Linked DNA regions of Homo sapiens. The protein of the gene in region 2 purifies or fractionates together with the protein of the main gene of each other region. This does not show direct contact. Each region holds a gene or a part of one and is shown on either strand. Other genes may lie near its edges.

What was found.
Region 1: the proteins of DENND1B (region 2) and SERPINA12 purify together in Homo sapiens (affinity purification with mass spectrometry; 3 studies listed by BioGRID and IntAct, with this or other methods). This does not show direct contact.

The regions. Positions count from the first base shown.
Region 1 is NC_000014.9:94,506,470-94,513,507, reverse strand, and holds the start of SERPINA12 (serpin A12 precursor), read left to right. Parts: upstream 1-4,038; 5' UTR 4,039-4,166; intron 4,167-7,038. UniProt on the Homo sapiens protein: Adipokine that modulates insulin action by specifically inhibiting its target protease KLK7 in white adipose tissues.
Region 2 is NC_000001.11:197,764,866-197,772,910, reverse strand, and holds part of DENND1B (DENN domain-containing protein 1B), read left to right. Parts: coding exon 1-43; intron 44-8,045. UniProt on the Homo sapiens protein: Guanine nucleotide exchange factor (GEF) for RAB35 that acts as a regulator of T-cell receptor (TCR) internalization in TH2 cells. Acts by promoting the exchange of GDP to GTP, converting inactive GDP-bound RAB35 into its active GTP-bound form.

The sequences.
Region 1 (7,038 bases), on a different chromosome or scaffold from region 2:
GAGGAGGGTTGCACGGCTGGGAAACAGCAGCCATGGAGCCTGAATCCAGATTTTCTGTCTCTACATAGAATTCTCTATAGTCTTTTCCCGCTCTCAGGTCCTCCCGCTCTGCTTCAGATTCTTGAGTCTCTACTGTTTCTTGGTTTGTACTGCTTAGAGATATCTGATATCAGCCATTTGCATCTTTGTATTCTCTCTCTGAAAGTAATTGTCCTTCATTTTGTCTTGGATTATAAAGGCAGTTCTCTGTAAGAGGACTGTCTGGTATCAGCAAACAAGCCGTGGCAACTCAGAGTATGCCCTTGCAGATAAGGGTGACCTGCTTACCAGCCCACACTTGGTTTCTATCAGCCTGCTTTCGCTTATCCTGGAAGGAAAACTGAAAACCTGGATGACTGAAGGGAAACTTCCCTTCTTCCACCTGCATGGTGAGCCGTGGGATGGCTGCTTCCAGAGCTACCCTCGGTATCACTCCTCATTCTTATGCTAGTGGCTTGAGCTGGTAATAGAACCCACTGGGGAATGTGTGGAACATTCTTGGAGAATAGATGTGTGGGCTTGCGTATTTCTTCACTACGTCTTCTCTGTGACTTGGCCCTTTCCTTGGTCTTAAGTAGACAACCACTCTGTTTTCCCAAATTTCTGAAAGCTCAGAAATGAGCTTTTCCCATCCTTAACTATATAATAGCACACAAAATAGTCAGTAGTTAGATGTGAACAGATAACCCTATTTGGGTAACTACTGACTACCCATCCAAATTCCTCCTGAATTTCAAGGATCTCAGCCATCCTTAACATTTGATTTTTGCTGTCTGATCCATTCTTGATAACACATGTTTCATTTGAGAGGCAAGAATTGTCCTCCTGGGCTCCAGCAGTGTTAGGCACACAACACCCTCACTCTTGATGCTGGAGGATGAGAATGGTGAGCAGAGTGTGACTTGGATGAACAGAATCAGCTCCCTGTCATCATGTTTATCATTAGTAATGCCCATTAATAGTAATTAATTACTATTTTATTAACAACTATTATAACTATTGCTATGATTACTACTAATTAGTTTTAATTGATCCTCTCCACATGGGCCTTTGCATTTGATAGCACTGCTAACAATCTGATGAAATGAACAAAGCAGGTACTTCAGTAGTCCCATTGGGCAGATGGAAATACTGAGGCACAGAGAAGTGAGGTGACCTGGGTGAGGTGGCCCAGCTTGCTGTGGCTGTAGGACCTGTGCTCCGCCTCAATGTCACAATGCCCCCTGAGAGGGGACACGTGAGTGGGTGGGGGATGGAGCTGCGGCTTTTTTTGTTTGGAGGCCTTGATTTGATTCAATATCTGCCTCTCGTGGGTGCAAGTGGTGTTGAACTCACCCCTCCACAGAACTCTTGTTTTGTTTTGTTTTGTTTTTGAGATGGAGTATCACTGTCACCCAGGCTGAAGTGCAGTGGTGCAATCTCAGCTCACTGCAACCTCTGCCTCCTGGGCTCAAGCAATTCTCATGCCTCAGCCTCCCGAGTAGCTGGGACCACTGGTGCGAGACACCACTCCCAGCTAATTTTTGTATTTTTAATAGAGATGGGGTTTTACCATATTGGCCAGGCTGGTCTCAAACTCCTGACCTCAAGCAATCCACCTGCCTTGGCCTCCCAAAGTGCTAGGAGTACAGGCGTGACCCCCCAGTGTCTGTCCCTTCCCTGGTCTGTGAGCTTATGAGGACTTGTGTTATTTCTCTCTCCCCCACACCTGGCTTGCTGCCTGGTACATTATAGACATTCAATCTGCTTTTCAACTCAAGTTCTGCCTCTTTGGAAGGAAGCAGGAAAGGAGGATGAGGGAAAGGCAGGTGAGAGAGGTGGGTGGGACACCTTCCAAAGGAGAAGTCGAATGGCTCAGAGATGGAAAACTGAAGGTGGTGTCGGTTCCTGTTCTGGGCTGCACGAACCAACCCGACAAATACTAGAGTGAGCCATCCCAGGAGCCAGCATTTAACAGCCGCAGCCTTATGTGAGGCATGCAGACAGTTCCAGAATTTCCTTGATTTCTCCCAAAGTTTCTGCACTAGTTGTATCCACATATTTTTTTTCTGCTTTTATATTAAGAAATTCTTATGAAGCTGCACATCCATTAAATAACCGTGTGACATTTGACAGATGACTCACTATCCCAAACCTCAGCTTTCTCATCTGTATAGTGTGACAATGGTCCCTCACAGACTTGTAAGAATTAAATGTGTGTGTGTATATATATATGTGTGTGTGTGTGTGTGTACATGAGGTGTGCACAGAAGTACACATGCTGCTGAAATCAAATTGGTGGGCTACCTGAAAATGCAGAAAAACATTAAATTATGGGCTTTTTTGCAGTTTGCGATTTTCCTTCCATAAATATTTTTCTGAAATGCTCTTTTTAAATTTCAAGAGTTTTTGGGGTACAGGTGGTTTTTGGTTACTTGGATTAAGTTATTTAGCGGTGATTTCTGAGTTTTAGTGCACCCATCACCTGAACAGTGTACACTGTACCCAATATGTAGTTTTTTATACCTCACCACCCCCTCCCAACCTTCTTCCCTGAGTCCCCAAAGTCCATTATATCATTCTTATACCTGTGCTCACAGCTTAGCTCCCACTTATGGGCAAGAACATGCAATATTTGGTTTTCCATTCCCGAGTTACTTTAGTTAGAATAATGGCCTCCACCTCCATCCAAATTGCTGTAAAGGACATTATTTCATTCCTTTTTATGGCTGAGTGGTATTCCATGGTGTGTATATACCACATTTTCTTTATGGATTTATTGTTTGATGGGCACTTAGGTTGGTTCCATATCTTTGAAATTACGCAACATGTGTGTGCATGTGTCTTTTTCATATAATGATTTCTTTTCCTCTGGGTAGATACCCAGTAGTGGGATTGCTGGATGAAATGGTAGCTCTCCTTTTAGTTCCTTAAGGAATCTCCATACTGTTTTCCATAGGGGTTGTAGTAATTTACATTCCCACCAGCAGTGTAAAAGTGTTCCCTTTCACCACATTCATGCCAACATCTATTTTTTTTATTTTTATTTTTTACTTTTTAATTATGGCCATCTTGTAAGAGTAAGGTGGTATCTCATTGTGGTTTTCATTTACATTTCCCTGATGGTTAGTAATGTTGAGCAAATGCTCTTTTTTTATATCCTCTGTTGTTCTGCTCTTCTACCAGCATCTAGATCTGGCTTGAATGACATTTAGCACGGACTTGGGTCTATATTATTTTAAGTGAAATTGATTGACAGCATGACTTCCAATAGTTTGGCTCTCTCAGGCAACCACAGATCCAATGCAGTCTCCTATTGCCCATTGTACAGGTGAGTACACTGAGAACCAGAGGAAGGGATGGCTTCTCCAGCCACCAGGTGCATTATGAGTCACCTATGTCTGGTACCCAGACCACAGGCCCAGGCCCTGAGACGTCCCAGAGCTCGGGAGTGGGGTGGGGTTGGATGGATGGGCTGCCTGCTCCCAGGCTGCACCTGGGAGGTGAGAGAGGGCCATGTGAACATCTGTGCCAGGCGGCTGGTATTCTATAGCAGTGCCAGGGTGCCCACACCCATTCCTGTCCTGTCCCAGGGAAGGAATCTGGGGTGGACGATTCTGCTCAAAGATGATCACAGGGATCAGGGCTGTGGAGCTGGGAGGGGATGGCGTGTGTCACTCTGGTTTCTGGTGCACTCACTTTTATGAGGTTTACTGGGTGCCAAACACTCAGGTCCTAGCAAGCCAGGCCCTCATCAGTGAATCTACAGAGCACCTTGGGTGTACCTAGCACAGTGCCCCTTGCTATTTGGGATGGGAGAGAAAAAGTAGGCCTGATCTTTCCCAAGGGGTGAGGAAGGGAACTCCCAGACGCATTGCTCTCTGAGTGAGACACTTGGCAGGGCCAGTTGGCCAGGCTGATCCTGGGAAAGGGGTGGAGGTGGCAGAGGCAGGCTTAGTAGGTCGTTGGGCAGAAGTCCACCCAGTTTGTAGATAAGGCTTGTGGGGCTGGGAGCCTAGAGGAACATACCTGGAACCTGAAGGCTGCAGGACCAGGACCGAAAAAGGACTAGGAGGCTGGGATCAGCAACAACTGGGGAAGGCCAAGGAAGACTGACCTGAGGGGAAAGGAGAAACTGGGGAGGTGAGGTTAGTCCAAGGGGCAGTGTGTGTGTGTGTGTGTGTGTGTGTGTGTGTGTGTGTGTGTGTGTTGTCTGTTTCTCTGTCTTAGAGAAGACAACCAAGGGCCAAGGTGATCACTCAAATAGACAGACATTCTGCGTCCTTCTCATGCCTAGCCCTAGGGCTGGATCACCAGTCTGGCCAAGAGTTCCATGGGTCTGTGCTGGCTGCCAAGATGCTGTGGCCATGCTTTCATTTATGGTCTACCAGAAAGCTATCCATGGAAAAAGGGATTCAGAACCAGAAGACCTGATTTTTGAGTCCTGAATCTGCTAACTGTGCAGCTATAGGAAACTCAGATTTCTCATGTGTAAAAATGGGTCTAGCAGCACCCAAACTTGCAAAGTTGGTATGAAAAATACATAATGTCTATGAATAACCGTATCTACTAATATGTGCATGGAAGTACCCTGTTCTGCAGAGACAAAGACAAAGAAGAAAATAAGATGAGGAAAATCAAAGCTGGCCCCCACCCACAATGTTTCAATGCATATTTACCCAAATTTTTTACTTTTTGCTGATTGAGAAACACATGTGGTTACTTATTGATATATATAAGAACTCTTAATTGTTAAGAACATTAGCTCTCTATCTTGTACACATGTTCCAATTTGTGATTCCAAATTTTACATATTCTGTAGAGTTTTAACACGTTGCAAAAAGATGGTATATCCATATATGCCATCTTTTCCTACATGGTTTCTGGCTTGTGTATCACACTTAGGAAGTTCTTTTTCACTCTAACATTATGAAAAGGTTTTATTCCAACACTTGTAATTTTATTTTTGAAATGATTTGTTTGTTTCCTAATAGCATTTATGGAATTGTTCACCTTTTCTCGAATGTTCTGAAATGCCATCTTGAATTTTTTACTATTTACAGAATGCTTCCCATTAAAAAAAAATTTTCTAAATTTTCTATTTCTCTCCTTTTATTTCTTACTTGTTTAGATTTTTGTGTGGAAAGATTTTCAACATTTTGTACTAGAAGCTTTTTAGGGTAACCTAGGATCTTACCGGAGATTGCTTAAAAATATTTTCTTTCAAAATCAATTATTATTAATTTTAAATCATTTATTGATTAAGCTCCCCAATTGGAGTTGAATTCAATGACTGAAAATACATTGCATTTACTCAGTCTTTGCCTTATTGCTTGGAGGTACAGTATAATTTGTTCTAGTGGGATTTGGGCTTTGCAGTGTTTCACACTCTTGGTCACTGGCTCCCATAGCTGTCTGTCACAAGCATCAACTGGGGATCCTGTGGAAACCAAAGAAGAGTGGGGACACCCAGGGAAATGCAAAGTATGATCTGGGATGGTGGCCAGGAATCTCTTTCTCTCTCTCCCTTCTCTACTATAAATGGACATCTGGGTTGTTTCCACTTTAGGTCTATCACATAAAGCTGCTATGGACATTGCAGTACATGTCTTGGTAAACCCACAAGCACTCATTTCCTGTTGGGCATATACCCTGAGGTACAATGAATGGGTCAAAGGGTAAGCATATGTTTACCTTTTATAGATCCTGCCAAGCAATTTTCCAATCAACACGTTGGTGTCGGTTTGCACACCCACCCGCAATATAAGAGAGTTCCACTTGCTCCACGTCCTCGTGTGGCTGGTCCTTTTAATCTGAGCTATTCTAGTGGGTGTGTAGTGAGTTCTTCTTGTAGTTTTGTTTTGCATGTTTCTGATGATTAATGATGTCGAGCACCTTTTCAGCTGCTTATTGGCCATTTGGATATCTTCTTTTGTGAAGTATTTGTTCATGTCTTTGCTTAGTTTTTAAGTTGTTGTCTTTTTTCAGTCGATTTGTAGAAGTGCTTAAAAACAGGCATGAGCCTTTTATCAGACACAGACATTACACGTACCACTCCCAGCTTGTGACTTGCCTTTGTACTGTCCTAGGTAATTTTAGAGGAACAAGGCTCTTAATGTTAATGAAGTTCCATTTATCATTTTGTAAAAATGGTTAATACTTTCTGCCTATCTCATGGTCACAAAGATTGTCTACTATTAATATATTTTCTTCTAGAAGCTTTATCATTTTGATTCTTGTGGGTTTTGAGGTTAAAAAATATTAAAGACCAATAGTTTCATATAGTCCAATCTAATACCTTTCACATTTAGGTCTGTGACTTCTCAAATTAATTTTTGTATGTTGAGTAAAATAGTCACTATTTATATTTTTCCTGTATGGACATCCACTGGTGTTTTGTTGTTGTTGTTGTTGTTTTCATCATTCATTGAAAGGATCATCCTTTCCTTTGAACTGTAGCGATGCCCTTGTCACATATCAGGTGACTTCCTGTGTGGCTCTGTTGGATTCTCTAGTCTGTTCCATTGGTCAGCTTGTCTGTCTCTGTTCCAATACCTTAATACTGTGGCTTTACAGCCATCTTGATACCTGGTGGCTGAATGCTTTAAAAGACCTGGGAATCATCAGGTGGGAATCACTTGCTTTGGAGTGGGATTCTCAACCTTGAGTACTCATTAAATCCCCTGGAGAGAAGTTCTTAAAGGCACCCTCACCCAGGATTTATCCTGCATCAACTAACTCAAAATCTCTAGAGGAATGTTCTGAAAATAGGTATTTCTAAAGCTCCTGGATGATTGTAATGCACTCCCAGGATGGAAACAACTGCTTTAGAAATAGGTTATTCCCATTTTGCAATTAAAGAACCAGAAGCCCAAAGTCACATATACAATTTCTGGAGGCATTAGATTGTTCACTCACTTTCTCCAGGATGCAAAATCCTTGATATACTTCTCTTGCTCTCAGTTTTCTCCTAGAGAACACCTACTTATCCTTCAAAACCCAGCTTAAGAGTGCCCCATC
Region 2 (8,045 bases):
GACTTGGTGTTGAAAGTGAAATGTCATGCCTCTGAAAATGAAGGTATGTGTCTTCTGTGTTCTGTTATTTGACAAGGTCTCTTTTTTTTGGGACAAGATCTCATTCTGTTCCTCAGGCTGTGCAGTGGCATGATCAGGGCTCACCACAACCTCTCCTTCCCGGGTTCAGGTGATCCTCCCACCTCAGCCTCCCGAGTAGCTGGAGCTACCAATGCACACCACCATGCTCAGCTAATTTTTGTATATTTTTTTGTGGAGACAGGGTTCACCACGTTGCCCAGGCTGGTCTTGAACTCCTGGGCTCAAGTGATCCACCCACCTTGCCCTCCCAAATTGTTGGGATTACAGGCGTGAGCCACTGTGCCTGGCCTGTTCTGTTAATTCTTAAAATAATTGATTGAATCTGTCAAAGCAAGTGTTAATATTGTGGACTGCTGGAACATGGTAGTAATAGGAAAATAATACTACTAAATGTGTATTCTGCATTGAGTGTCTCAAGTTGCTGGTAATAAAATAGGTGTTAAGTCTTTGCCCTGGGATTGTAAAAATCATGAATGTTATCAGTGCAGCTTGAATTTCAGGTGTGTTGTTAAGCCCATATAACTTACAACTCAGCTTCACCATTCGTTGGTAAAGTTATCATTAGTTTTGGTGAAAGGGCGAATCTTTTCATTTTCTTTCATTTATGTTTGGAAATTTAGTGTCTTTTTTTAAACATTAGTGCACATTCTCCTGCTAGTACCAATGGAAACTACACCACTTCCCTTCTGATGTTTCCAGAACGCAGAATGCAGACTGAGTAGCCCCTTCTGTTGGATTTACTCCAATAGCACAGCACTTTTGCAGGGAGGTAAACGATAGTGTGAAATTACTTGGAAGGGTTTCAGCTGTCAGTTCCGTACAATTTCCTGAAAAGATGAGAGCATAATACTTTAATGTCATGATTTTCATCATTTCCCTCCACTTTTGTCATATTGTGTATTGTGCATATGTGTGGTAGGCGGCAGGGTTAGCAGACAAGAATAAGGAATTCTTTTCTTGCCTATTTTCTTTTAATGTGTTCTTGCATGGTATGTCTTTCTAGATACTTAAAGTATATGTCTTTACTTGCTGTGTGCTTAGACCCTGGATAGCATGATGATTAAGCATAGGGGTTTCGTGGAGACTGATTGGCCATCCTAAAGCCTTGGAGGAAAGTCTGCTGACAATTTTAGCTTCAGAAACTATCCAGCAATTACCTACTCTTAAGTAATTTGGAGCTGCACACCTTAAAATAGAGAAGCCCAACCCAGTTGTGGTGAAATGGGCATGGCTAATTTTAGTATGAAGTCACATATTGTTGGCTCCACCAGCCCTACTACTGTACTCCTGGTCTATCTGAACTGCAGCTGTGGTCAGGTTTGTCTATTGGCAAGGAGTGATCCTAGGTTGTAGGGAGCCTTTTCTAGTTGATGAAGTTATCTTTTATTGTCCTGTATGTAGTAAAGTTTGTCCATTTGCATTATTTTGAGCCCCAACCGGGTCCTCTTTGAAGAATGGATATATTAGGTAGAATGGATACTCAAATGGATACATTATGTTTTCAGCTCCAATTTAATTCTATTCTATAGTGGTTTATGATATAAGTTAATCTAAAAAATATCTACCACAACATTACCGAAGGTGCGTGAAGTAACGCTCATCTGATATTGCTTGTAAAGGCGTGGCACGGTGGCTCACGCCTATAATCCCAGCACTTTTGGAGGCCGAGGTGGACAGATCATCTGAGGCCAGGAGTTCGAGACCAGCCTGACCAATATGGTGAAACCCCATCTCTACTAAAAATACCAAAATTATGCAGGCATGGTGGCCTATGCCTGTGATCCCAGCTACTGGGGAGGCTGAGGCACGAGAATCAGTTGAACTGGGGTTGTGGAGGTTGCAGTGCGCCGAGATAGCACCACCACACTCCAGCCTTGGTGACCAAGTGAGACTCTGTCTCAAAAAAAAAAAAAAATCTATATAGATATATAGATATATTTATAGATACATATATTTATAGATATATATTTATAGATATATATTTATATATATTTATAGATATATATTTACATATATATTTATATATATATTTATAGATATATATTTATATATTTATAGATATATATTTATATATATTTATAGATATATATATTTATATATATTTATAGATATATATTTATATATTTATAGATATATATTTATAGATATGTATATTTATAGATATATATTTATAGATATATATTTATAGATATATATTTTTATATATATTTATAGATATATATACACACACACACACACAACAGGCTAATTTCACTTGGAAAATATGGATTCTCTAATTTTAAATGTGTATTAAAGTGATCTTGTTAAAAGATCAATTTGCCTTATATAACACCCAATCTATGCATGTGTCAGAGAGATTGTGGTCTTCTTATAAAGGCTTTTGAGTGGTTTACTCCCTTCTTCCTCTTTTTGCTCTTTTCCACTTTTCATGAGCTAGTTATTCCAGTTTGTATCTTCTACTTCTGCCCTGCTTTAATATTACACCTTGTCTTTTTGCTGTTGTTATTTAAATCACTACTTTTTAGAAACATCTTCATTTGTATTTTAACAGTTTATATCTAGCCTGGTAAAGTTGTAAATATGATAAATGGTTAAAGTAAATAATGTTGGCTTCTTTGTAGGTTGCAAATAATCCATTCTATATGGCTAAATGGCAGAAAATTCTAAAGATATTTTAAAAAACTAAACTCAGCCATGTAAGCAGCAGTAACCTTTCTTCTTTTATTATGACTTAAATAGTATGAATATGGCTAATATTTTAGGATCTAACAAGTAATAACTATAATCAGTAACTATAATAAATAACAAATGATAAATTAGTAGCTATAAATAATAAAATCAATAACTATAAGAGGGCTATAAAAGTAAATTTTTTTGCCAAATTGAGAGATTTATGTTTCTGTAATATTTTATCAATGTTCTACTTTACAGCTAAATCTTAAATAGAAAAATATATGAAAAATATTTTAAAAGTTATTGGAATCCTCATATTTAACTGTTAGTACCTATTTGTTTTAATGAGGCTCTGATATGTGCATTATCAGCTTGTTTAAGGTACGATAATTTTTTTTTTGCTAACATTAAATGATCATGGGTGAAATTCTTAAATAGTAATAGATTGGAAAACAAAATGTATAAATTAGGATGCTTTGGAGTACAAACATAAGATTGGTTTAAATAATAGAGAAACTAGAGAAACTTGATATAGTTCATACAAGAAGTCGTCAAACATCGATATAGTTCATACAAGAAGTCGTCAAACATCCAGGTGCTTTCTGCTTCTCATTTCTGCCACTCACAGTAATGGTGTCATTGGAGGGCTTAGATTTCTTGCGGTTATAAGACTGTCAGTGGAAGTTGGAACTCTGCTTTTTTGTTTGTGACTCTGGGGGTGACAGACACTGGCTTTACATGTCTCTATTTAGAGCCAGAAAGTTTCTTTTTTCAAATCCCCTAGAAAGCCTTTCCTTAGATCCTGGTAGCCTAAGTTGGCATGCACCTGACCACTCCTGAAATTATCATTGGTGGGGTAGAGGTAAAGGGGTTGGTGGCAAGACTATTGTGATTGATTTATTTAAATTGGCAATGAATAGATGTTGAGAAATCAATTAAAATGCTTTTGTTAAAGAACTTTTAGAATATATAATTTTTTGTTGACTGATCAAATAGAAAATGTATTTAGAGTAAATTTGGTTTATACTAAGATTGGTGACATTATGTTAAGGTATTTGGCATGCTTCTCTTGTTCATTTTTCATAGGTAAGTCTAAATGTTTTCATTTATCCTGAATAGCTTAGATAAGTATCTTCAGAGACAGGTTGTTAATTAAATTTTAGTTAACAGTGTGAAATGACATTAGCTTTTAAAATATAACTTGATAAAGCTCCTCTGGTAAGATTGTGATCTTTATCTGGTCTACTGCTATTTGGACTTGTTTCAGAGGCATTATATTGATTTTTTTTTTTTTGAGAACAACACATTTCAGAACATTCTGGAAAATAGCTTGTTAGTTTCATATGGAGTGCTCTACAAATCTAAAAAAATGCCATAAGAGGGGTTGGTAGTATTTCCCTATAGTGTCCCCTATGTGTTAGTAGAATTTGTTCTGGTGGTGTCTGACAGATTAGTTGTGGCATTTTTTTTTTTAATGGAGGTTTCCCTGGCAGAACAACCTCCCAGTAACTTCTGCTCCAGCTGTCCAAAAGTGAAGTGCCAAAATTTAGATCTTAATGCTCTTCCTGGTAGATCTCCAAGATAATTGCTAGTGTTCTTATTCTTTTTGTTGTCTGTCTTCCTTTTAGCAGGCAGGGAAGTACAGCCAGCAGTGATGGCCTCTCCTCAATTCTGTTAACAGAAGTCATTGTTACCATACTGTCCCCACCTTCCCCAAAGTGACTTAAGACTTCAGGGAAATGAAAAGTAACTTTTCGTCAATAAAAGATTGGGTATGCCTCTAAGCATTTCTCTTCTGGGAAGTGGCCTTGGTACTCTAGCTTTCTCTTTTTTAATTTTGTTGATAGTTTATTCCAAGTAGTAATAGTAGCAGTAGTAGTAGGAGGAGGAGGAGGAGGAGGAAAGGGAGGAGGAGGAGGAAGAGAAGGAGGAGGAGGAGCAGGAGGAAGAGGAGGAGGAGAAGGAGGAGGACGAGGAGGAGGACGACGAAGAGGAGGAGGAGGAAAAGGAGGTGGAGGAGCAGCAGCAGCAGCTGCAGCAGCTAATATGTTGTACTTATTCTGTGCTGGGCAAAATTCTGGATATTTTTCATGTACTATTTAAGCCTCACAAAAATCTTATGATATAGGAAATGCTTGTTTCCATTTGGCACATGAAGAAACTGAAGAACAGAGAAATGATGAAACTTGCGCAGGGTAGTCTGTCCAGAGTCTGTATTTTAACTACTGCTGTGTTGCCTCCCATTGCATAGTGACTTCACGTGTATAGGTGGTTTTATCATGCGAGGAAATATTTGAGTATAAACTGTATGTGGTACAAATCATTTTTTCCAAATGGGAATACAGTGTGTTCCCTAAAATTAATGAATCCAATATAATTCCACCTAAAACAATTACTGAGTTTTTTCTTTGTGGTTGCAGAGCCTAACTCATCCCATTTCCCTCCCTGTCACTTTTCATTTTTAGGATTTGCATCTTCATATTTAGTGAATCTTTGATCTAATAGTTCTGGCTATTTAATAGTAGTTTTAAAACATCTTTAGCACGTCTTGTTTTCTTTATTCCTTTCTTTTTACCTAGAACAGTTTCTCTTAGGAACAAATTCTTCTTTGCTACCAGCTTTCTACTTTGATCTGCCTATCCAACCCAGTCTCAAATTATCAATTTTTCTTATCTGCAACTTATGTTAACAGTTTAACTGCCTTTCACTTTTTTGTTAAATTAGAGCCTTAAGCCAAAGAATTCTTAGTGTCCTCCATGCCCTGCACAAGAAAGGTATCTCTAAACTTACTTTTTGCATTTGATAACTTTTTGTCTATAGTGATACTATCTACACTAGACTCTACAACATTTTGCTTCTGCTTGGTATTTTAGCACTTATTGTACTATTATAGATATGTTTAATATGGTCATTTAGAGAAATACTGATGTGTCTAAATGTATGTTTGCCCTGCTTGAGGTAAGTTCTTCATGAACCAGAACTTATTAATTTGTATTCTTAAGAAAAAACTTAACACATCTGACATGTTTAATGAATATTTACAGAATGAATAAAAGAAACTGGGGCTGGGTGCAGTGGCTCACACCTGTAATTCCAGCACTTTGGGAGGCAGAGGCAGGTAGATCATTTGAGGTCAGGAGTTTGAGACCAGCCTGGCCAACATAGTGAATCCCTGTCTCTACTAAAAATACAAAATTTAGCGGGGTGTGGTGTCAAGAGCCTGTAGTCCCAACTACTTGAGAGGCTGAGGCAGGAGAATCACTTGAACCCAGGAGGCGGAGAGAGATTGCAGTGAGCTGAGATTGTGTCACTGCATTCCAGTCTAGGTGACAGAGGGAGACTCTATCTCTAAAAAATAAAAAATAAAAATAAATTGGATCTAGCTTAATGCTTGGCCATTGAATAAATGAATGTTGATTACATTAATCCACAGAGAGCTGCTTGTAGAAATGATTTTAAATGTGTGCTGGTATGACAGTACAGGGGCATTAGAAATAGAAGTCCATATATGTCTTGGAATGGGCTGTTTTGGAATACCCCATCCTCAAACTCTTTTCATTCAGTGCTTATGTCTCCTTTCCTCTCTTCATAGCAAAATATTTATAAGAACAGTTGCTATATATGTTTGTGAATTTACCTTAAAACTCATCTATAACCATTCATACATACTAAAACCCAACAAAACTCTAACATTTGGAAAATAGAACCTTGAGGAATCATACAGATAATAAAGTAGTTTAGGAGGTATTGCATTATTGTCCAACATGGAAAAAGTCTGAGTAAAATGTGGTTACCATGATAGTTGTTTTTGCTGTAACTTTGTGTTCATTTAAGAACTCTGAGTCTCTCAATTCAGATGCACTAGGATAAATTAGAGTAATGCAAACTGTATAAGCTAAATTGTTGAAGAAAATGAAACTGTGACCAGGCATGGTGGCTGATACCTGTAATCCCAACATTTTGGGAGGAAGAGGTGGGAGAATCCCTTGAGGTCAGAAGATCAAGACCAGGCTGGGCAACATAGCGAGGCTCCCATCTCTATTAAAAAATAAAATAAAATGAAACTGTTTTTTCTTTTGCACTGCTAGCCAGGAACAAAATGTAATGTGATTCTTCAGAACCATGTCCTTGGGTTATGCCCTTCTTGATTTATATAGAAAATAGTTGAGAATATATGTACTTTTATATGTGGCTTGGTGCATTACATCCTCCTTCACATAGCTGCCTGCAAGTGTAAAAAGCAAATCAAATTTCACTGTTCAGTATTTGTTGATTATTACTTTCATAGGTGTGTTGCAAATTTTACATTTTAATAGTTTGGTTATCACTTTCTCATTAGGTGCTTTCATTTGTTTACATGTTCTTTATTTTTGCCGCTTTAATCTAAGGTGACCTCTTGGTTTTTGATGTTCATGATTTCCACTGTAAAATGTCAGAGGCTGCTTGGCCTCTGCTGCAGATTTCACAGTGGTATGCTTTAAGACTGTTGTTTTGTCACTGCTGTGTTGCCACAGTGCAAGTTTGTTCAGGTTTTTTCTTATAACTTTGTTTTCTTGACTTTCAAGGTGATATGTTCCTGATGTGCTTTTGATAATATTCTCTCATTTTCAGATTTTTCTTAGGCTCAGATAATATATTCTTTTTCTCTAAATTTTCATGTTTTATTTGCAAGTTAGGGGATAATAATTTACTGTGTACAGTATACATTTTAAAGTGTTCATATAATACTAGCAATAGACATGTTTAGAGTGCTTTACGCAGATGGCCATGGTACTTCAGATAACAATGAGAATATCACATTTGAGCTCTTGGATTTTTAATCATTTCCAAAATAATACTTCTTCCTTGGAAATAAGCTTAATGTTTAACATTGAAAAACTTTTCCCACTTTCAAACTCTTGATTTATCTCAAGTAGTAATTTAATTTTATCTATAGAAAGTAATGTCTTGGTTCACGTTTCTGTGATAGGTCAGTCACTGGCCTTGTGGGGGAACTTGCTAAAAGGTGATCCTGACTTGACCTTTTAAAAGTATTTATTTAGGAGACTGTGGTACTAATTCTTATGACACTGAATAAGAGAAGAGTAGAATAACAGAACTTGAGTTTCCTTAAAGAGCACTTAGTATAATCCCATGGAGTATGGAGGGAATTGCTTTGATGCCTTTTACAATTCCTGGATCCCCTCTGCTGTCACCTTGTAGGTGCCATTATCATCATGCTGCCTGGTGACTGGTAAAAATTCTCACAATGAGCATTATATAGGCCTGCTCCACTAAGATTACCCCTCTTC